2 separate regions of the Homo sapiens genome follow, and region 2 is linked to region 1. The links come from fine-mapping of genetic effects on gene expression. Tissue or cell type: blood mononuclear cells. Region 1 holds a variant in brackets; the other region holds the start of a gene. All regions are shown on one strand. Distances are between the middles of the regions.

Region 1 (11,226 bases):
AGGACCTTATTTGTCACCTTCTGTCCTGGAATGACAGGACAGGTCGACCCTAATTTCACTCCTCTAAACAAGGTAATGATGGCTTGTGCAGGAAATCTAAATCTGGCCTCAGAGGCAGCCCAGTGATTTTCCAGGTCAAGGGAAAGGGAGAAAGCAAAGATCTGAAGCTCTGTCCTCCTCTCCTGGGTATCTGCCGTCCACAGAGCTGGGGGAAGTCTGCCATCTAGTGGAAAGTAGAGGGCACTGACAGTTACTTGCAATAGTGGTTTCCCAGGACCGCTTGAGCATCAAGCGTTTCTGATCCGGGGGCATAGCTTCCATCAGGGACAGGGTGGACTAGCAGAAGAATATTCAACAACAACAAGTAACATTCAAACCCAATACACAAATGTTTCTTTATATATATAAACTACACATAGTGCCCTATACAAAGTGCTTCTTCATAAAGTAGTGCCAGGTGAAGTGCTAAGTGTTTTAGTTAATAAATCTCATCTCATTTCTACAGTGATTATCAATGTATTCTGCATGATTTTTCCTATACAATGGCAAAAACACAGGGTGGGAAGTATACTTAATCCCTAACACAGTGATTACCATTATACTTTTAAAATTGCTGTACAGAGAATATTTTCCATCGGTTCAGATCCATACAATAATCGATTTCAGTTTATGCTTGTCTTTTGACAACAATTGACATATTCAGGTAACAACATTAAGGGGGCTGGGGGACAGACCAAGTTACTCAGATATATTTGTGCTCTCTCCTTTTGATTTCATTTGATTTCATTTGTTACACTGTTCCAATTTGCTTTAAGTGATTGTTTTTAATTATATTAAAGTAGCACATGCCATGCATATATTTAAAAGCATGGTCTCCTCTTCCGCCCCTTCCCACCTCTAGTCTTGGTCCCTAGAGGTAATGACCTGCAGTTCTGTTAGTTGCTTCTTTTCGTATTTTCCTCCATAATCTCTAAATAAAACGCTCTGCTTCTATTTCCTTGTCTGTCTGTGGTGGATTGACTGCCTTAGTTTGGGTTCTTTCAGAGGCAGATCCTGAAATGGATGATTCAAGGACAGGATGGGAAAGTAAGATGAGGAGAAGGCCATCAGTAAAGGGCAAATCATCACACCAGCTGCCACCATAGGCACCTGCACCAGACCCAGTGTAGAAATGGGAGCCAGTGCGAAACAGAGCTCACGACCACTGGTTTAGAGCTGCTCCTGTCACATGGGCAGCAAGTAAGCTCCAGCACCAAGAGCAACACCAAAGCAGATGCTGGCAATTGCACACAGAGCTGCCTTGTGCAGCCGTGGTCAGGGCCAGGTGTGTGGGCAGGGAACTGCCAGTGTCTGCTACAGCCATCTCACCTGTCGGGTACCCAGGTAAGCAAGAGCCTTGCACACCCCCACCTTCCTCATCCTTCCCTTTTCACCCCACCTCCTCTCTCCTACTGCTCAGCTTCTGATTACATTTGCTTCCTTGTTTACATTCTTCTATAGCTATATTTAGGCCTACAGTTTGATTTTGAAAGCACATTGATGATGTGACTTTGCAGTATTTTTCACTGCCGAGCTAGTGTTCACTATAATTACATTTCTTTTTTTTTTTTTTTGAGACAGGGTCTCGCTCTGTTGCCCAGGCTGGAGTGCAGTGGCACAATCACAGCTCACTGCAGCCTGACCTCCCAGGCTCAAGCAATCCTCCCACCTTAGCTGCTCTCCCCTCAATAGCTGGGACTACAAGCACAGGCCACCATGCCCAGCTAATTTTTATATTTTTCGTACAGATGGGGTTTTGCTACGTTACCAAGGCTGGTCTCAAACTCCTAGCCTCAAGCGATCTGCCCACTTCAGCTTCTCAAAGTGCTGGGATTATATAGGCATGAGCCGCCACACCCAGCCACATTTCGTTTATATTAGAGCTTTTTAATTTTTCCTGAAGTTATTAACTGCCTTTTAATTTTCTTGCACCTTTTGCCCTTGTTTCACATTAGTGTTTTTCCTTGACCTCTTCTGCCAATTAGGGATCAAGTGTTCCATGGAGACTCTTTCTTTTTTTATTATTATTATTTTTTTTTTTTTAATTTTTTTTAAGTGGAGTCTCACTCTGTCACCCAGGCTGGCATGCAGTGGCGCAATCTCAGCTCACTGCAACCTCCACCTCCTGGGTTCAAGCGACTCTCGTGCCTCAGCCTCCCAAGTAGCTGGGATTCCAGGCATGTGCCACCACACCCAGCTAATTTTTGTGTTTTTATTAGAGATGGGGTTTCACCATGTTGGCCAGGATGGTCTCCATCTCCTGACCTTGTGATCCGCCCACCTCAGCCTCCCAAAGTGCTGGGATTACAGGTGTGAGCCACAGTGCCCAGCCCCATGGAGACCCTTTCTATGTAGAGTTTCTCTGCAGGGCCTTGTCTCATACTGTGGAATGTTCCTACAAGGGAATACTACTCTGCAAAACAAAGAATAAATTATTGAGACATGCAACAACACAGATAACTCTGATTGACTTTGCAGAGTGAAAAGCTAGACATTTACATAAAATTCTATGAAATACAAATGAATCTACAGTGATAGAAAGAAAGAAATCAGGCTGGGTGCGGTGGCTCACGCCTGTAATCCCAGCACTTTGGGAGGCCGAGGTGGACAGATCACGAGGTCAGGAGTTCGAGAGCAGCCTGGCCAATATGGTGAAACCCTGTCTCTACCAAAAATACAAAAATTAGCCAGGCATGGTGGCACGCTCCTGTAGTCCCAGCTACTCAGGAGGCTGAGACAGAAGAATCACTTGAACCCAGGAGGCTGAGGTTGCAGTGAGCCGAGATCACACCACTGCACTCCAGCCTGGGCAACAGGGCGAGATTCCGTCTCAAAAAAAAAAAAGAAAGAAAGCAATCAGTGGTTTCTTGATGTACTCAGAAACTGGTATGTTCACCATCTTTTGTTCATGGGTATGTACATATGTCAAAGCTTATGAAATTATATAATTTAAACATGTGCAGTTTATTGTGATTAATTATAATAAATCCAGTTACACTCAATAAAGTGTTGATGATGTCAATGGTACCATGAATAAAATAGAAAGATTATTAGTTAATGCTATGTGAATAAAATAGAAAGAACATTGTTGAACAAACCATTTGACCAATGAATGTTTCTCACTGCCTTATAAAAAGAGTAAGTGAATTATTAAGGCTTAGCAAAGTAAAGAAAGTCTCCCACAGTCTCTGATTGGAATTCCATAAAACAATAGTCGTACATTTTTACTAGACAAAGAAAACATACATATAAAATAGCTAACTTTTCAAACTCCAGCAAAAGTCTCCATTCATTTACTTTTTGTTCGCCTTAATATAGCTTTATTACCTTATAGAACATTTCCCTATATCTTAAGGGGGAACATCTTTACAAAGAGTAAAGCAGGAAGGGAATAAAATCAGGACAAAAACAAAGATCACTAAAGGATGAGCTTTAAACCATGTTCCTCATCTTCTGGTAGAATTCCACCAGATTCTTCTACTTAGAAACTCAAGCACCCAACTCATCAATTTCACCTCTAATTCTACACTTGCAACTTTATCAGCCATGTCTTCTGAGAGCTTGCACTCATATTCACCAACACATCCAAAACCAAAACAGATTTAGAAACAGCTCTAGACTCCTTGCAGAGAGGGAGTCTCACCTTATCATTCTTTTCAGCATTCCAAGTAATTGTACCCTCTCCCATCCTTCCCATCTCCTCCCCAGGCCATTGAAAAGGGTTGAATTTTAAGTACATAGTTGACCCTTCAACCTGGACACCGTTTATTGAACTGTCTGGTTGTGAAACTGCATTGCCACATATCAATATAGTTGTGGGAACTTGGAGATTCAATAGGTATAACAATCTGTTTATGTTAAAACAAACAAAACAGCCATCTCCTTTTATGTGCAGAGCCTACTGCTGTAAGGCACAAGGCTTACTCCTGAGACAGAGTACCAGGAGACAGGAGGCAATTTGAGAGGCTATAGCAAGATAACTGAGTAAAATACTAACTTGTATTTATGTCCCTATATTTTCCCTTTTTTCTCATTTCAGAGCAGGAGTCAGGCCTTTAGCATTTCCTTCCCTTGGTGATTTTTTAAAGTAGAAATCAGAAGTCACTTTCAATCAAAGTCTTTTCTGTCTTTTGCAAACACTGAAGCTACCTGCAGAGAGGATGACAGGGGCCTCAGAGGGAAGAGGAGAGGGATAATTTTAAGAGCAAAGAGAAAAAGAGGTGGGTCGGAGGTTTGGAAGAAGACAAAGGTTAGTGGGTCCCAAGGCTAAGGGAGATCCACATTCTACTCATCACCATTTCAGAATGGAAAGGCCGGACCCCAGACACAGACACTCCATGTCTTCCCAACTCCTCCCATCCCAAGCATGGCACAACTGCTGGAACCAAGGGACCATGCAGGCTAGAACAAAGGGCGCCTCAGCTGTGAGTGGTGTAGACCATGGCCAGTGTCCAAAGGGGCCAACATCCTAGATCATTGGCACAACACTGAGTGGTTAAGGAGCTGGACTTAAGTTGATTTAAATTAAAAAAGAAAAAACCACATTTTTACCATCCCATTTGCTGCAGTAAGATTGATGTGGGGACCCCCTGCAGTACAGCAAAGACTGGCTGGGTGACACATAGCTACAGAAGGCACTGATTACAGGTGCTGGGATTCAGGCCACTTCATCCTGAGCCCGTGGCTGAGATTGTGTGGTAGAATCGGTGTAATCAGATGAGTGTAAACTCATGCTGACTAGGGAAAACTGGGAGTCTATAATAAGCTTAGGTTCGAAGCGTACTTTAGAAAGCTTTAAAATCCCTGGACAAACCAGCCTCTCTTTCTGGAGTAACAAAATACAAATCACTTGTTTGTTATGGTTATCTTGACTTTGTGGAAGTGAATTTAAAACAGGACATTATCAATGAACACAAAACAAAAAATCAAATAAAAGGATTGTTTCCAACATTGTCAAACTTGTGTAAATTAAAAACAAATAAACAAACCAACCAACCCTGGGCAGATACAAAGTGATCAGAGAAGGAAGTGAGGACAGTGGGAGCCTTGTTAGTTTGCTAAGATTAAAATCCTCTGTAATTCTCAGAAAATATCTAGAAAGATTTTAAGGTTTCTAAGTTAATTCTCTTTTTAAAAATTACAATTCTCCCTGGAGGAGGAGAGGCACAGAGAAGCCAATAGACATGCTACCTGGAGAATGGGCCCACGTGTCCAGGTAGCAGTAAGCTATTCTGTCTGTGATGGACATAACAGTTCCCAGAAACTGAGGTATTTTCCATCATTTCCAGTGATACTACCCCAAGTGTCCCCCACCCCCCGAGGAGAGACATTTGAATCTTATTTAGGGAATACCCCCAAGAAACTGCTGCTATTGCAGAACTAGAAAGCAAGAAATGGAGAAATGAATGATGATGTGGCTCCCTCAGAGTCCCCTCTGCTTCCTGGATTGCTGCCTCCCTGGGCTTCCTCTCCTGCAGCCACACGGGCCTCCTGCAGGTTCCTCCCTCCTGTGGCCACTGCATCTGCTTCCCTCTGCTGCCTGGATGCTCTTTCCAGACTCAGTATAGAGCATTCCTGCACCACCTTCAAACAGCACCTCCTCAATAAGGCCTTCTCTATCAATCTCTGTACAACTGCAGCCCTGGCCACAGCCCCAGCTCTCCCTTCTGCACTTAGCACCATCTGACACACTACATGTTTTACTTAATAGTTTATCATCTGTCTCTCCCCACTAGACAAGAAGTACTGAGTCTTTTGTTCAATGTTGTGACCTCAGCCCACATTGGCTGCTGTATTAGTCCATTTTCACACTGCTGATAAAGACATACCTGAGACTGGGAAGAAAAAGAGGTTTCAATGGACTTACAGTTCCACATGGCAGGGGAGGCCTCAAAATCATGGAGGGAGGCAAAAGGCACTTCTTACATGGCAGCGGCAAGATAAAATGAGGAAGAATCAAAAGTGGAAACCCCTGATAAACCCATCAGATCTTGTGAGACTTATTCACTATCACAAGAAAAGCATGGGAAAGACCTGCCTCCATGATTCAATTATCTCCCCCTGGGTACCTCCCACAACATGTGGGAATTCTGGGAGATATAATTCCAGTTGAGATTTTGGTGGGGACACAGCCAAACCATATCATTCCACCCCTGGCCCTCCAAATCTCATGTCCTCACATTTCAAAACCAATCATGCCTCCACCAGTTCCCCAAAGTCTTAACTCATTTCATCATTAACCCCAAAAGTCCACAGTCCAAAGTCTCATCTGAGACAAAGGAAGTCCCTTCCACCTATGAGCCTGTAAAATCAAAAGCAAGCAGTTACTTCCTAGATACAGTGGGGATACAGTTATTGGGTAAATACAGCCATTCCCAGTGGGAGAAATTGGCCAAAACAAAGGGGTTACAGGGCCCATGCAAGTCCGAAATCCAGCAGGGCAGTCAAATTTTACAGTTCCAAAATGATTTCCTTTGACTCCAGGTCTCACATCCAGGTCATGCTGATGCAAGAGGTGGGTTCCCTTGATCTTGGGCAGCTCTGCCCCTGTGGCTTTGCAGGGTACAGCTTTTCTTCCGGCTGCTTTCATGGGCTCGTGTTGAGTGTCTGCAGCTTTTCCAGGCACACAGTACAAGCCGTCTGTGGATCTACCATTCTGGGGTCTGGAGGATGGTGGCCCTCTTCTCACAGCTCCACTGCGCAGTGTCCTAGTAGGGACACTGTATAGGGGCTCCAACCCCACGTTTCCCTTCTGCACTGCCCTAGCAGAGGTTCTCCATGAGGGCCCAGCCCCTGCAGCAAACTGTTGCCTGGGCATCCAGGCGTTTCCATACATCTTCTGAAATCTAGGTGAAGGTTCCCAAACCTCAGTGCTTGACCTCTTTACACCCACAGGCTCAACACCACATGGAAGCTGCCAAGGCTTGGGATTCCACCCTCTGAAGCCACAGCCTGAGCTGTACATTGACTCTTTTCAGCCACGGCTGGGACACAGGGCACCAAGTCCCTAGGCTGCACACAGCATGGGGACCCTGGGCCTGGCCCACAAAACCACTTTTTCCTCCTGGGCCTCTGGGCCTGTGATGGGAGGGGCTGCCATAAAGTCTCTGACATGGCCTGGAGACATTTTCTCCACGGTCTTGGGGATTAACATTAACAGCTCCTTGCTACTTAAGCAAATTTCTACAGCCAGGTTGAATTTCTCCCCAGAAAATGGATTTTTCCTTTCTGTTGCATAGTCAGGCTGCAAATTTTCCAAACTTTTATGCTGTGCTTCCCTTATAAAACTGAATGCCTTTAACAGTACCCAAGTCACCTCTTGAAGGCTTTGCTGCTTAGAAATTTCTTTT[G/A]CCAGATACCCTAAATTATCTCTCTCAAGTTCAAAGATCCACAAATCTCTAGGGCAGGGGCAAAACGCCCCCAGTCTCTTTGCTAAAACATAACAAGAGTCAACTTTGCTCCATTCCTAACAAGGTCCTCATCTCCATCCTAAATCACCTCAGCCTGGATTTTATTGTCCACATTGCTATCAGCATTTTGGGCTAAGCCATTCAACAACTCTCTAGGAAGTTCAGAACTTTCTCACGTTTTCTTGCCTTCTTCTGAGCCCTCCAATCTGTTCCAATCTCTGCCTGTTACCCAGTTCCAAAGTCACTTCCACATTTTCAGGTATCTTTTCAGCAACGCCCCACTTTACGGGTACCAATTTACTGTATTAGTCCATTTTCACATTGCTGATAAAGACATATCCAAGACTGCACAATTTACAAAAGAAGCCTCATAATCATGGCAGAAGGCAAGGAGGAGCAAGTCACATCTTACATGGATGGCAGCAGGCAAAGAGAGAGAGAGTTTGTGCAGGGAAACTCCTGTTTTTAAAACCATCAGATCTCATGAGACTCATTCACTATCATGAGAAGAGTGCAGGAAAGACCCACCCCCATAATTCATTCACCTCCCACCAGTTCCTTCCATGACATGTGGGAATTGTGGGAGTTACAATTCAAGATGGGATTTGGATGGGGATAAAGCCAAGCCATAACAGGTGCCTACTAAATGCACACTGCAAGAACAAATGAGTGAGTGAATGCTGGTGGAATAAATGCTGAAGTGGCCTGGGGTTAGTGGCTGTGGCTTAGTGTCTGGGTATAGGATTCTGGGGCCCACTGACAATCATCTTTGTTTACACTGTGGTCAGAAAGCTGGTCAGCTTGGACTTGAGCACAGTGGAAGGGGCTAGGCTGGGAGAACATCATAGGATGTGCTCTCCCAGAGAGTGGCCTAAATGACTTCAGACTGCTCCACATGTCTCCCAATGAGAGCATATGGCAAAGGAGGGTTGCTCCCTCCACAGTATTTTTACTCCTTTGGTGCTCTTTTCAAAAAAGGAAGTTCCATGAGAACAAAAGGGCTGGCAAAGTTCCTATTGGGGGATGAGGAAGCCATGCCACATTTTTACAAATGCAACATAATGCCAAGCTCAAAGACAAAATACTGTAAAGTACAATCTCTGCTTGCATAAATTTATTCTCTTGACTGGGAGACAAGACTAATAGGTGAGAAACAAATATGGCAGCATTTTTCTAACAAAGATTCCCTGAGAACAGAGGAGCAGATGCTGGCAATTGCACACAGAGCTGCCTTGTGCAGCTGTGGACAGGGACAGGTGTGTGGGCAGGGAACTGCCAGTGTCTGCTACAGCCATCTCACCTGTCAGGTATCCAGGTAAGCAAGAAGCTTACAGAAATAACTGATAAGTTATTTCTGAAGTCTGGATAGTATTGGAGTTGAAATGCAGAATTTCTCTGCAGTCTTATGTTTTAATTTTTAAATCAAATTTTGGATGTAATCTGCATTATGAAATTTTAAAAAATTACTTACCAGTGAATTCAACTTAGAATTTTTTCCCACAATTTCAAGACAAACTGATACTCCACGGCAAAATGAGCCTGGCCAATCCTGAGGCTCTGGGTCCCCCTTGGTACTGTGAACCCCAGGGCTGTAACTCTAATGGGTAAATGTGGAATTTTGATATCACAAAAAATATCACCTTGTGTCAAAATGCATCATACAGACAATATCTACAAGGGCTGCTCAGGAAAGGCCAAAATGTTTGGAAAGACTACATGGAGCCAGCTGTAAAAAGCATGATTCAAACTGGTGCCAAACATCTAAGCTAGCTAAGCTGTAGGATACAATTTTTGCTTTATTTATAATTTTTTTTTTTCAATTAGGAAACTGAGACTTAAGAATTTTCTCTAAAAAAAATAAAAACTGGAAAACAAGTAATTTTAGAAACAAATATATATTTTTGATAGAAACTGTAAGTAAATATTCAGTACTACCAGAAATATACTATCTTCAACTCTCGGCTTTTTTCCAAAAGATACAGAATCATTTTTTGGAAAAGATACAAGATGTACAGACAAATCACATTCATACCTTACAATTTAAATTCATAATGAACAATGAATATTTTCATATTTTCCAGAAGTTTGAAATTTCAAAGTTGTTAGCAAAATTATTCATTTCCATAATTTTTACGAGTAAAAATAGAAAGAGCTGATCATGTACCTTAATATTGTCACTTTATATATTACTCAAAAGTACAAATAACCCTAAAAGTAGAATCCCAGGCTTATCATATTATAAAAATACTGAGACATTTATCAAACATAACTAATATAAATGAAACTACATTTTTAAAAATGTTTCACAAACACCAGTCCATCTTTCTCTTTGGTTCAGAAAATAAAAGAGGTAGGTTCAAATAAAGAAAATGCCTATTACATCATTAGATTTTCATTAAAATGCTGGAAATTTATAACAGAAATTATTAGAAGTGAAATGAGTTTAAGAACTAAATTAAAAACTGATAATAACTTCAACTAGTAAATATTTTTCTAAGTTCTAATCACACAAATAAGAAAAGATAGTTGACTATAAAAATGGCTTTAGTAAAATAAAAAAATGCTCTCATTATTATAAATTAAGTCTCCTATATCCTAACATGTTCCTAAAACTTGGGGCAAGAGAGAATATGAATGTATATGTTTACAAATTGGGCCTTTCATTTAAATATAGGTATCTAATGTATAAGAGTAATACATACTACTATTAATATGTATCTCTCACCTTTGTGCTGCCCATATTGAAAACAGCAAGTTCAAAGATATTCAACAGTGAGGGAGAAATAAGCACATCATTTGCTCATGATCAATCCACTTCATGCAATTAAAAAAGAAATTTCAGGTTACTAAGAATGGTCCCAAGAAGTCTTCCTGACTAAAACGGAATCTGATTCAAAAGGTAGGAAACAAAGGACAAAGGAAAACAAAGATGCTCTGCAGAAGCTGATACAAGTCAAAGGATTTCGTTTCCTGCTGCTTTTCAAAGCAATGGCAGGATAAACGGAATCTTTCAAATAAATTGCCTTGTGTTGGTAATTTAACAGTAATATACTGAAAATTAGTGTATAACTCCAGGAACCAAATAATGGTACAGTGGTAAAATGGAAAAGTGCCCACTGAAATAAATATAATTTCATCACTTCCCTTCAGAAATTCCACCACTGTGTTCATTCGTATTCAGCTGAAAGAAAAATAAGGACATAAACCCTATACTTATTTGGATGCTTTTGCTGTAAGGTATATTTTAAATGTAATGATTTTCTATTAATGGTTCTATAAGGAAATTTAAAGAAATCTATAAAGACATTCAAAATATATAAAACAAGAAATTTAAATATAAAGGAACTGGCATAAACGTAAACCACCCGAAATAAAGATTAATGATTTATAACTCTAACACACAAAACAAATTTTGTTCAAGCCAGTACATTTTCAGATTTCGGATTCAGGGCAGAGATTTGCAGGATTATTAAGAAAAGATAAAGTATAATTGTGTGGCCTTTTCAAAACACATTAAAACTATGATTTTGAACATTTCTGTGTACATATAATTTAGCCCAAAAGTTTGAAGTGACCATTGTTACCATCTTCCCTTTTGTGAAAAAAATGCAGCTTCTTTTGCCATAGACTTGTTTCAATTCGAGGAGAAAAAGTCACTCCAGAGATTGTTGAAAGTTTCAATTATCAGGCTAAAGCAAAAAATGCAACATCATTTCTGGGTTACTCCTAAAGTTTGCTTCATATTTTCATAAACCACATAACTGATGCCTACAGCAGG
Region 2 (11,813 bases), 69 kb after region 1:
CAGCATTTAACAGAATTGACAGGAGAGAACAAACCATAGAGTTGAGAGTTTCATCTAATAAAAGGCAGGTAGTTTTGTTGAATAGCTCTTTCTGCTTTTTGAAATTACCCTGTTCATTATTTGCTTATTATTTTTTATTCCCCATGCACCTACACACACACACAGACCTACTTACTATAGGGAGGGTTTTGAGAATACAATGAAGAACGCTGTCAGTGTTGTTCACCACTATATCCCCAGTTCATTAAACAATGTCTGGCACTGTTTGAAAACATTAAATGAATGAATTTACTATTTATGCTAAGTTACTGGGTAGGTCTTACCATTCCTAGTTAACATTTGAGGCCTCCAGGCATTAAATAACATGCCCAAGGCCACAGTCTAGCAAGCGGTGAAAACATTTGAACCCTGTTCTGATTCCACAGCCTATAATAATAACTATTACATCCACTAAAACAGTTAATGTGTAGTAAACACTATGATCCACGTTTCAGAGTTAGGCTTCAAACTTTCTCAACAAATCCTTTTGTTTTCATAAATCCTGTCAAATATAGATACCTTGGTGGACTCCATTCAATCCTTAAAAAGATAAGATTTTTGAACTCAGCAGGGTCAAAAGAAGTTAAGCAGTGTATTACAGAATGTTGTCTTGTGGAAGCTTCTTTTGTTTTTTCTGGAATACCGATAAAGAAAGTGGGCTAGGAAGATTATAAAGGTGAGTTGGGGCCTTAAACAATGGGCAATCATATACCAGGCAGAGAAGGGGGAATGAGAGAAATCTCAGGCAGAGAGAAGAAAATAAAGGGATCAATGTACATGGCTGTGGCCTAGTCAGGGAATATGGCATGTTGGGAGTTTGGAAAGGTGACAAAAGGCTTAGAATGCTACAAAGATAGAAAGGGTATTTTATACCTTACTAAAGAATTCTTCCATTTTTTTCATTCTTTCAGACACTTTATTTCTGCAGAGAAGGATAACATCAAATTTAGAATATAAATCAGGAGAGAACACAAAAGATACAGATTTTATATATTTTAGAACATTTGACAGAAATGTAGTTGGAATTCCATTGTTTTTCTTATACCATAATCTTTCTGTTGTGATGCCCTAAAATTCACCCTGTGATTTCATATCATGTCTTCTTAATATTGTGCCAGAAACCATAACATGTCTGACAATTAAAATATTAAGGAAATGGGCTGGCCATGGTAGCTCATGCCTGTAATCTTAGCACTTTCAGAGGCAGAGGCAGGCAGATCACTAGAGGCCAGGAATTCAAGACCAGCCTGACCAAAATGGCAAAATCCCATCTCTACTAGAAAATACAAAAGTTAACCAGGTGTGGTGGCATGTGCCTGTAATCTCAGCTGCTTGGGAGGCTGAGGCACAAGAATCGCTTGAATCCAGGAAGCAGAGGCTGCAGTGAGCCGAGATCGCACCACTGCACTCCAGCCTTGGTGATAGAGCAAGATTCTGTCTCCAGAAAAAAAAAAAAAAAGCAATATTAATGAAATAAAAATGAAATGAACCCTCTTTGTTAACAGAGGAATTACTTAATGGAGTGAAATCCTGATTCCACTCAATGCAATAAACATTTGCTAAGCTACTATTCTTCTATGTGACTATTTTTTCTGTGATTGTAAATGTAAAAACTTAAAGACAGAATTAAAAAAATCATAGAATGTAAGAGTTAGAATGGCCCTTAAATCAGGTTACCAGTCCACCCACTCCTCTAACATTGGGTGATCATTCAGCATACACTTCATACCCATGGGCACAGAGGTTCCTCAAGAAGTTCACCAGCTAGTAAATGGGATACCACATTTTAAAGGGTTTTTTAACATGAACTTTCATATTCTGCAACATATGACCTTGTTAAAAGCTCTGTCCAGGATGCAGGCAAGATATCTGCATTTTAAGAATAAGAAAGTAAAGCTCCAGTAAGGCTCAAACTTGACAAGGATTACACGGTCAATTTACACCAAGGACGGAACTCTCTTGTAGCTTGCTGCTTCCCTTCTTGCTCTTGATAATTGTCCTAGTCCAACTGGGCTGCTATGACAAAAATACTATTGGCTTACTTAAAAAATAAGCATTGATTTCTTGCAGTTCCAGACACTGGAAGTCCTAGATCGAAGTGCTAGGAGATTTACTGTCTAGTGAGGACCCACTTTCCGGTTCCATGGACCACTGTTTTCTCACTGTGTCCTCACATGGTGGAAGGGGCAAGGAAGGTCTTCCAGGTCACTTTTATACAAGCACTAATCCCATTCATGAAGGCTCCACAGGAAGAAAGAAGATGGGGGTAGAAGGAGGAAGACAAGAGGGAGAAGGAGGTGCGTAAAGAGAAAATAACTGAAGACTTTTAAAAGGAAATAGGATTACTAGACAAGTATAAGAGAATTAGTAATGGTTAAATACTGTATCTCCTTGTTCTCACACTACATTCTACTCTCAGTCTATACCCTTATACTACTGAGTCCTAGGAGAACTTAATGTGAATTTTCTCTAATTTTTAACTTTAATTTTTCACTAATTTCATAGTGAGGAGATTTGGAACATACAGAAAAGAAAGGTCATACCAGAAAAAAAAATGTAGCGCTTTCACTTCCAATTGGTTCTTAATTTTGTCTCAGGACTTGCCTTGAATTCTTTTCTCTTCCCTGGATAATTCTGGAACACTTAGTAATGGTTAGCTATTATATTCCTTATACCTATTTCTACATTCTACTCTTATTTCTACATTCTTTCCATCTAAAATCTAAAGAAACTTAAACAGAAATTTGTTCTCTTCTAAATGCTCAATTCATTACAAATGCTTGGAAACACGGAGATGAGATCAAATCAGATGAAAATTTATAGAGATTTTGCTTCAAGCTGAGTATTTGGCTTAGATACAAACTACTACCTTGAAACTTTCCACCGAAGAGTCACCCCACAGTTCTCATTTCTATGCTCAAGTAGCCAATGTCCTCACTCCTTGACATTACATAAACCCCTGACATGCCTCTGAAATTTTCTCCCATAAAGGTTGACTGTGTAATCCTAATTCTATCCCATGTGTGATGGTTAATTTTATGTATCAACTCGTCTGGACTAAGGGATGCCCAGATAACTGGTAAAACATGATTTCTGGGTGTGTCTGTGAGGATGTCTCTGGAGGAGGGTAGCATTTGAATCAGTAAACCAATTAAAGAAGACTGCCCTCACCAAATGGGTAGGCATAATGCAATCCTGTGGAGGATGTGAATAGAACCAAAAGGCAAAGCAAGTGCTACGTTTTGTTTGTCCCCACAAAAACTCATGTTGAAGTCTGATCCCTGATGTGGCCGTGTTGGGAGGAGGGACCTAGCAGGAGGTGTCAGGGTTACGGAGGCAGATCCCTCATGAATGGCTTGGTGTCATTCTTGCAGTAGTGAGTGAGTTCTCTCTCTCATGAGACTGAATTAGTTCCCTCAGTAATGGATCAGTTCCCTCGAGGCTGGGTTGCTATAAAGCCAGGACACCCCTCGGATTTTGCTTCTTCACACATGTCCACTTCCACTTTGACTTTCCACCATGTTGTGACACAGCAGGAAAGCCCTCCCCAGGAGTCCAGCAGATGCCAGCACCACGCTTCTTAAACTTCCCAGCCTGCGGAACTGTGAGCTAAATAAATGTCTTTTCTTTATAAATTACCCTGTCTCAGATATTCCACTATAGCAACACTAAATGGACTAAGACAGGAAATGAAAAGGAATTTCACCTGCAGAATAGGAGACTTTACAAAGACTGATACCCTGAATGAGCGAGGATGTGGAGAAGCAAGCACTGTCAGTCAAAAGAGTGAAAATGGGTCTAAGGTTTCCGAAAGGCAATACGTATCCCAGTTTAAAATGTGTGTTACCTTCAGACTCAGCAATGTCCACTCCTCAAAATTTATCTTACGAAAGTAACTGGACCAGAATGAGAAAATGAATACAAAGGACATCCATTGCAATTTCACTTACAATCGTTTTTAAACTATCAATAAAGTAAAAGGTGATTTAAAAAGAATTGGTAACATATACTATGACACAAACATATAACAGAATATGATGCAGTTACGTAAAAATGGTGATACAGCAGCAATTCTCAAGCTTTTTGATCTCAGGATCCCTTTACAATCTTAAAAATCATTGAGCACTCCAAAGAGCTTTTGTATATTGTAGGGACCATGGAGTTGTACCACTGAGATCTCCCTTCAAAGGCACCTACTGTGAGGAACACAGTTGACTTCCACTCTCTAGCCTCTAACCCTGGCATCTGCTGATGCACTGCAGCAAGGTCGTCCCTTTCCTGGGCTGCTTCCAGCCAATGATTGGACATGGTGGGGAACTCCAACTGGGCCATTTCTGGGACAATCAGCACAAAGTACCAAAAGTTGGTTCCTTCAAAGTATGAATAAAATACACAAAACTTTGGCAAGATTGAAGGGGAGAAAAGGATAGATATGAGGAATGAAATAGAGAACCTACCTACAGATTCAGTCAGAAGTGTTATAAAATCATCGGTGAGTATTATGAACCTTGGACAGAACAGGCAGTTTCAAAAAAAATTGTAACTTACTAAATCTGACTCTAGAAGAAACAGTAAACTGAAGAGGCCTATAACTACCAAAGACATTAAAAGAGAAGTGAAATATAACTATATAACAGTTGTTGGCCCTCATAGTAACCTAATCACTTTCCCTCTTTGGATAAGAGAATGCCAGTGTCAGGGAACGCTTCAACAGGGTTGGAGAAGTTCCACATATCTCCACCCTACTAAAGGGGCAGAAGTTCAGGGGCACAGTTAAGATGACTCAGAGAAAATGAAATTGCTCAGTCGCAGGTCAAGTCAACCCTTCAGATCAATTTATGTACCTAGGGCATTAACCTAGGAATGTCTTAAACAATGGAATGCCGCCATTCCTTCTCAACAGGAAGTGGGGGAAACACGCGATTGGTTTTCAAACAGTTTTCAAACAGTAGACAATACACATAGCTGCTGTAACAAAGCAGCTTCGAAAGAGATCGAATGTGTGCGCCTTTATACAAAACTTGGGACCCACTGAAGTCTGACAGCTAAAACGGATTACATGTCTGCAAGGTATTAAAACAGAAAACAAAGAACCTGGGATGGATTCAGGACAAAAGTGTCTTAAAAATTTAACAGTGCCCGTGGGCCAGAGTGTCCACAACACTCATTTTATCTGGACAAATACCAGTAGACTTTCGTATTATGACCCACTTCTGTTACCGGGGTCGCCGGTCGCGGCCCCACGCCCGAGTTTCTGAAGCCACCGGAGCGCTGGGCGCCACAGTTCCTCCTTCCTCTCCTGGCAACGCCTCAAGCCGCCGCCCTCCTCGGTCCTCGCAGTGTCCCCAGCGCCCGCAGCCCTCCCTACGCTCAGGCGGCGCCCCGGCGGCGACCCACCTCCTCGGCGTCCTGGCCCAGAGGGATGCCCAGGTTCCTGAGCCCCTCCTGCAGCTCGCCGATGTCCACCACTCCGTCCCCATTGCGGTCCAGTGCCTGGAAGAGGGTCTCGTAGCGCGTCGGCTGCTCCGCGTCCTGGCAGGCCGCGGTGGGCAGCACGAAGTCCCGCAGCCAGCGCAACATGGTCCCAGAGGCGCAGGCGGCCTGGCCGAGGAAGTCACGGGAGATCGAGGGCTGCGGGGCGAGACCGGGACCAGCGCGAGGCCGGGCTGGGCGGGGCGCGCGGCGCAACAGCGTTTGGGGCGCCGTCGGGGTTGCGGCTGCGGCGCGCAGGGCGCAGGGCGCAGGAGCGGAGACCCCACCCGAGCCCGCGCGGAGCGCAGGGTGTGGCCGTCCCGCCGCTGCTGGGGAGGAGCTCGCCGCGCTGGCCTCGGCGGCACTGGCCGGGCCCGCCTCCAGAGAGCCGGAAGTGAGGGAGCTGGGAGCTGGGTCTCGGGAGGTGCTGTGCGGACCCGGGGTCGACCTCTGCCCAGTTGCCAGTCCCGCTGTCAGCATGCGGGTCCGAGGAAGAGGCCCCCAGCAGGTCCAGGGCTGCAGCGTCAGCGCGTCGGTGGCTTGGGAGCGGGGTCTTGAAGACTGGTTACTCCACTTAAAGACCCTCTCGGGCCGGAGCCTTGGCGGTCAGCCCAGAGCTGCTTCTCTCTGCCTGGAAACTGGGCCATGGAGGGCATTGTCTCTCACGGATGTCTAATTTTTTCGTGGTTGCACACCTGGGATGGCGATTCTGCTTTAAAAAGCAGAGAGTTAAATCCTAAAGCATCTATTGGAGCAATTATAAAACAAAAAGGAGAAACTCCTGGATTTGTTGCAGAAAAGATCAACAGCCATCTGCGTGGGCAACGGGGAAAAGAAGGACTAGTTTGGTAGGCAGCTTAGCTAGGATTTGCCCGTGATTAAGCGTATAGAGTGTCTGCCAGCTGCACTTATCAGAAAAAACCACAGCGCCCTCCTCCTTCTCAAGATGGGTGCAGTTCCGAGGTTTGGAGCTTATTACTCAGGCAAGACAGAACTTATTACTGCCTAGCATGGAATAACGGAAGGAACATTGGACTTAACAGAGAAAGTACCTAATCCTTCAGGTGTGACATAGCGTCTCCGGGTAGTCTCTCATCAGTAAAATGAGAATATAAATATCTGCCTTCACAACAAAGTTGTATATTAGGTGTGAAAGGTCTTAATTCTCTAAGGCGCCAATCAAATGAGATATCATTAATTGTAATAATCCTGTTCATTCACAGCTGCGTAAGAGGAACTATTGTTGTACTGCTGTTTGCAGAAAAGAAGATACCTCTGTACTTGTAAATTAGGGTGTCTCACATCTTCTGAATCACTACACAGAAATCAGTTCCAACAACAGCCAGGAACTCAGACCCTGAACTTACCTCTCCTCATATCATTTTGTATGTTTAAGATATGTATGAATCTAGAATTTGTAAATTAAGGGCTGCCTGCTTAGTAAAATCATCTTGAAACTGATTTATCTTTTTATATTACTTCCAACTTCCAGTCTTATTAAGAATCATTGCCTTCCTTTGGAACTGCCTTCAAACTTCAAATTTTCTCTGTCCTTGAAAACCTCTTTTAATCTCTACTCTGAATACTCTGTACTTGAAGAGAGGTTGCTTGAACTAGTCATCTTACACTTACATGCTTTCATTTTACTTTTTATTTATTTCTTTTTTTTTTTTTTTTTTCTTTGAGACAGTCTAGCTCTGTCGCCCAGGCTGGAATGCAGTGGCACAATCTCAACTCACTGCAACCTCCGCCTCCTGGGTTCAAGCTATTCTCCTGCCTCAGCCTCCTGAGTAGCTGGGGCTACAGGCTATTTTACTTTTTTAAAAAAGTAATACTTAGAAAAATTACCTGTCAGCGTTTTTGCTGAGAAAATTATCTTCACACCAAAACTTTTACTTGAGGGTTTATAGCAGTTCTATTCATAACTGTCAAGCGCAGAAACAAAATGTTCTTTAACGGGTGAACTGGTAAACAACCTGTGTTGCATTCATACAGTGAGATAGTAATTAGCAATAAAAAGGAATGAATTACTGATACCTGTCAACAATGACATTCTGGAAAAGGCAAAACTATAGGGACAGAAAACAAATCAGTAGTTACCAGTTGTGACTAGCGGGAAGGGAATTGATGACAAAAGAGCATCAGAAGGCTTGTGGGGGTGATGGAGCTATTTTACATCTTGCTTTTGGTGGTAGTGGTTACACAACTGCATGTGTGTGCCAGCAGAACTGCACACTAACATGGGTTAATTTACTCTGGGATATCAATAAATCTGACTTAAGCATGAGTAAAATGGAATAAAAATTCTCAAAAGATCAGTGTGAACATCAAAACAGTTTATGAATAGTTATGAAGTATGGGCCACACACCAGCAGCATTGGTGTCACATCAGTGTTACTGTGAAAATCAAAGCGTTTATGAAGTGTGGGCCACAGACCAGCAGCATCAGTGTCACTTGGGAGCTTGTCAGAAATAATCTCAGGCCTGCCCAAGCCCACTAAGTAAGAATTGCACTTATACAAGAACCCTGGATGAGCATTTCATAAAGTTTGAAAAGCACAGCTAGTATGAAGCAAACCACTCGAAGTGCAACCTGTTACCTGTCTGCAATGAGTCAGACATTGAGAGGAAGGATTTAGAAACTTTATAGCAATTTGATAAAGTAATTTTGTTATATCTAATAATAAAACTCAGAGCTTGTCTTTTTAATTTCAATTTTCTAGTATTGCATTTTTACTGTATTTTACGACACTATGTCTGCAAGGAATCGAGATAACACCATGAAGATAAAAGGTGTAATTAACACTAGCAACTTCCTGCATAAGAGAAGAAACCTTTACATGGACATTTACACATCTGGACGAAAGAAGGCACCCCTGCTTAATTCTACTGGCAATTCCCAAAGACCAGTGGTTCCTAGAGGGCAGTAGTAGAAACCCAGAATTCACACTTCCTTAATTCATTTCCTTGGTCAGAACAGAAGTCTAGGGTTCAGCCCAATTTAGCTACTTCTATTGTCCCCAACTTCTGGCCTTCTAATGTACTACCATTTTCCACTGGAATAACCTTCAGACTTGACCAGTTTCAGTCCTTGAAGACCTCTTTCAGCACCTACTTTGGAATCTTTTCATAATCATTCTGGATTTGGCTAGTTTTAGTTGATAAACACATTTCTTCTTTCTATCCACTGAATCACTTACTTATTGTGTAGTGCTAATAAGACCAAAGAATCTGCCTCTCCACAAGGAACAATTCTATTTCAAAATCCTTCAAGAATATTCAGAAAGGAAAAAAAGATCCTGGTCATTGCTCCCTCAAATTTGAGTAATCACAGCTTAGGCTCTGTAAGAGAATTTGATTGGTTCAGTGTAAAGCCATAACCATTACTGGAAGGATAATTTTTTTTCATTGTACTTTAAGTTCTGGGATACATGTGCAGAATGTGCAGGTTTGTTACATAGGTATAAATGTGCCATGGTGGTTTGCTGCACCCATCAACCCATCACCTACATTAGGTATGTCTCCTAATGCTATCCCTCCCCTCCCCACTCCCTCCCCTCCCCACCCCCAACAGGCCCCGGCATGTGATGTTCTCCTCCCTGTGTCCATGTGTTCTCATTGTTCAACTCCCACTTATGACTGAGAACATGCGGTGTTTGGTTTTCTGTTCCTGTGTTAGTTTGCTGAGAATGATGGCTTTCAGCATCATCCATGTCACTACAAAGGACATGAACTCATCCTTTTTTATGGCTGCATACTATTCCATGGTATATATGTGCCACATTTTCTTTATCCATTCTATCACTGATGGGCATTTGGGTTGGGTCCAAGTCTTTGCTGTTGTGAATAGTGGTGCAATAAACGTGCATGTGAATGATTTATAATCCTTTGGATATATACACCCAGTAATGGGATTGCTGGGTCAAATGGTATTTCTGGTTCTAGATCCTTGAGGAATCACCACACTGTCTTCCACAACGGTTGAACTAATTTACATTCCCACCACCAGTGTAAAAGCGTTCCTATTTCTCCACATCCTCTCCAGCATCTGTTGTTTCCTGACTTTTTAATGTTCACCAATCTGAGTGGTGTGAGATGGTATCTCATTGTGGTTTTGATTTGCATTTCTCTAATGAACAGTGATGATGAGATTTTCTTCGTATGTTTCTTGGTTGCATAAATGTCTTCTTTTGAGAAGTATCTATTCATATCCTTTGCCCAGTTTTTGATGGGGTTGTTTGTTTTTTTCTTGTAGATTTGTTTAAGTTCCTTGTAGATTCTGGATATTAGCCCTTTGTCAGATGGATAGATTGTAAAAATTTTCTCCCATTCTGTATGTTGCCTGGTCACTCTGATGATAGTTTCTTTTTCTGTGCAGAAGCTCTTTAGTTTAATTAGATCCCATTTGTCAATTTTGGCTTGTGTCACAATTGCTTTTGGTGTTTTAGTCATGAAGCCTTTGCCCATGCCTATGTCCTGAATGGTATTGCCTAGGTTTTCTTCTAGGGTTTTTATGGTTTTAGGTCTTATGTTTAAGTCTTTAATCCATCTTGAATTAATTTTTGTATAAGGTGTAAGGAAGGGGTCCTGTTTCAGTTTTCTGCATATGGCTAGCCAGTTTTCCCAACACCATCTATTAAATGGGGAATCCTTTCCCCATTGCTTGTTTTTATCAGGCTTGTCAAAGCTCAGATGGTTGTAGATGTGTGGCATTATTTCTGTGGACTCTGTTCTGTTCCATTGGTCTATATCTCTGTTTTGGTACCAGTGCCATGCTGTTTTGGTTACTGTAGCCTTGTAGTGTAGTTAAAAGTCAGGTAAAGTGATGCCTCCAGCTTTTCTCTTTTTACTTAAGATTTTCTTGGCTATACGGGCTCTTTTTTGGTTCCATATCAAATTTAAAATAGTTTTTTCTAATTCTGTGAAGAAAGTCAATGGTAGCTTGATGGGATTAGCATTGAATCTATAAATTACTTTGGGCAGTATGGCCATTTTCATGATATTGATTCTTCCTATCCATGAGCATGGAATGTTTTTCCATTTGTTTGTGTTGTCTCTTATTTCCTTGGCATTGGTGTAATTCTCCTTGAAGATATCTTTCACATCCCTTGTAAGTTGTATTCCTAGGTTTTTTATTCTGTTGGTAGCAGTTGTGAATGGGAGTTCACTCATGATTTGTCTCTCTGTTTCTTATTGGTGTATAGAAATGCTAGTGATTTTTGCACATTGATTTTGTACCCTGAGACTTTGCTTGAAGTTGCTTATCAGCTTAAGGAGTTTTTGGGCTGAGACAATGGGGTTTTCTAAATATACAATCATGTCATCTGCAAACAGAGATAATTTGACTTCCCCTCTTCCTATTTGAATATCCTTTATTTCTTTCTTTTGCCTGATTGCCCTGGCCAGAACTTCCAATACTATGTTGAATAGGAGTGGTGAGAAAGGGCATCCTTGTCTTGTGCCAGTTGTCAAAGGGAATGCTTTCAGCTTTTGCCCATTCAGTATGATATTGGCTGTGGGTTTCTCATAAATAGCTCTTATTATTTTGAGATACGTTTCATCAGTACCTAGTTTATTGAGAGTTTTTAGCATGAATCGGCTGTTGAATTTTATCAAAGGCCTTTTCTGCATCTATTGAAATAATCATGTGGCTTTTGTCATTGGTTCTGTTTATGTGATGAATTACGTTTATTGATTTCTGTATGTGGAACCAGCCTTGCATCCCAGGGATGAAGCCAACTTGATCATGGTGGATAAGCTTTTTGATTTGCTGCTGGATTCAGTTTGCCAATATTTTATTGAGGATTTTTTCATCGAAGTTCATCAGGGATATTGACCTGAAATTTTCTTTCTGTGTTGTGTCTCTGCCAGGTTTTGGTATCAGTATGATGCTGGCCTCATAAAATGAGTTAGAGAAGAGTCTCTTTTTTTCCATTGTTTGGAATAGTTTCTGAAGGAATGGTACCAGTTCCTCCTTCTACCTCTGGTAGAGTTTGGCTGTGAATCCATCTGGTTCTGTGCTATTTTTTTTTTTTAGTTTGTAGGCTATTAATTATTGCCTCAATTTCAGAACTTGTTATTGGTAGTATTCAGGGAATCGACTTCTTCCTGGCTTAGTCTTGGGAGAGAGTATGTGTCCAGGAATTTACCCATTTCTTCTAGATTTTCTAGTTTATTTGCATAGAGGTGTTTATAGTATTCTCTTAAGGTAGTTTGTATTTCTGTGGGATCAGTGGTAATGTCCCCTTTATCATTTTTATTGTGTCTATTTGATCCTTCTCTCTTTTCTTCTTTTTTAGTCT

Evidence for each region. PIP is the estimated chance that this variant, and not a neighbour inherited with it, causes the effect. A credible set is the group of variants that fine-mapping cannot tell apart.
Region 2: it holds the start of SLC25A24, and the variant in region 1 is the best candidate, but not a certain one, in a credible set for the expression of SLC25A24 in blood mononuclear cells (TOPMed, PIP 0.53).

The regions. Positions count from the first base shown.
Region 1 is chr1:108,125,496-108,136,721 of GRCh38, forward strand. SLC25A24 (solute carrier family 25 member 24) reads right to left here. Exons shown (of 10, transcript NM_013386.5): 10 at 8,548-11,226. The coding sequence ends at 11,158. Among named protein-coding and RNA genes, the nearest start is that of LINC02785, 67 kb to the left of the region's middle. RefSeq lists a silencer at 235-374. The variant G/A (reference allele first, on the strand shown) is at 7,389.
Region 2 is chr1:108,194,520-108,206,332 of GRCh38, forward strand. SLC25A24 (solute carrier family 25 member 24) reads right to left here and starts at 5,824. Exons shown (of 10, transcript NM_013386.5): 1 at 5,437-5,824. The coding sequence starts at 5,619. RefSeq lists a silencer at 5,608-5,947 and an enhancer at 5,748-6,042.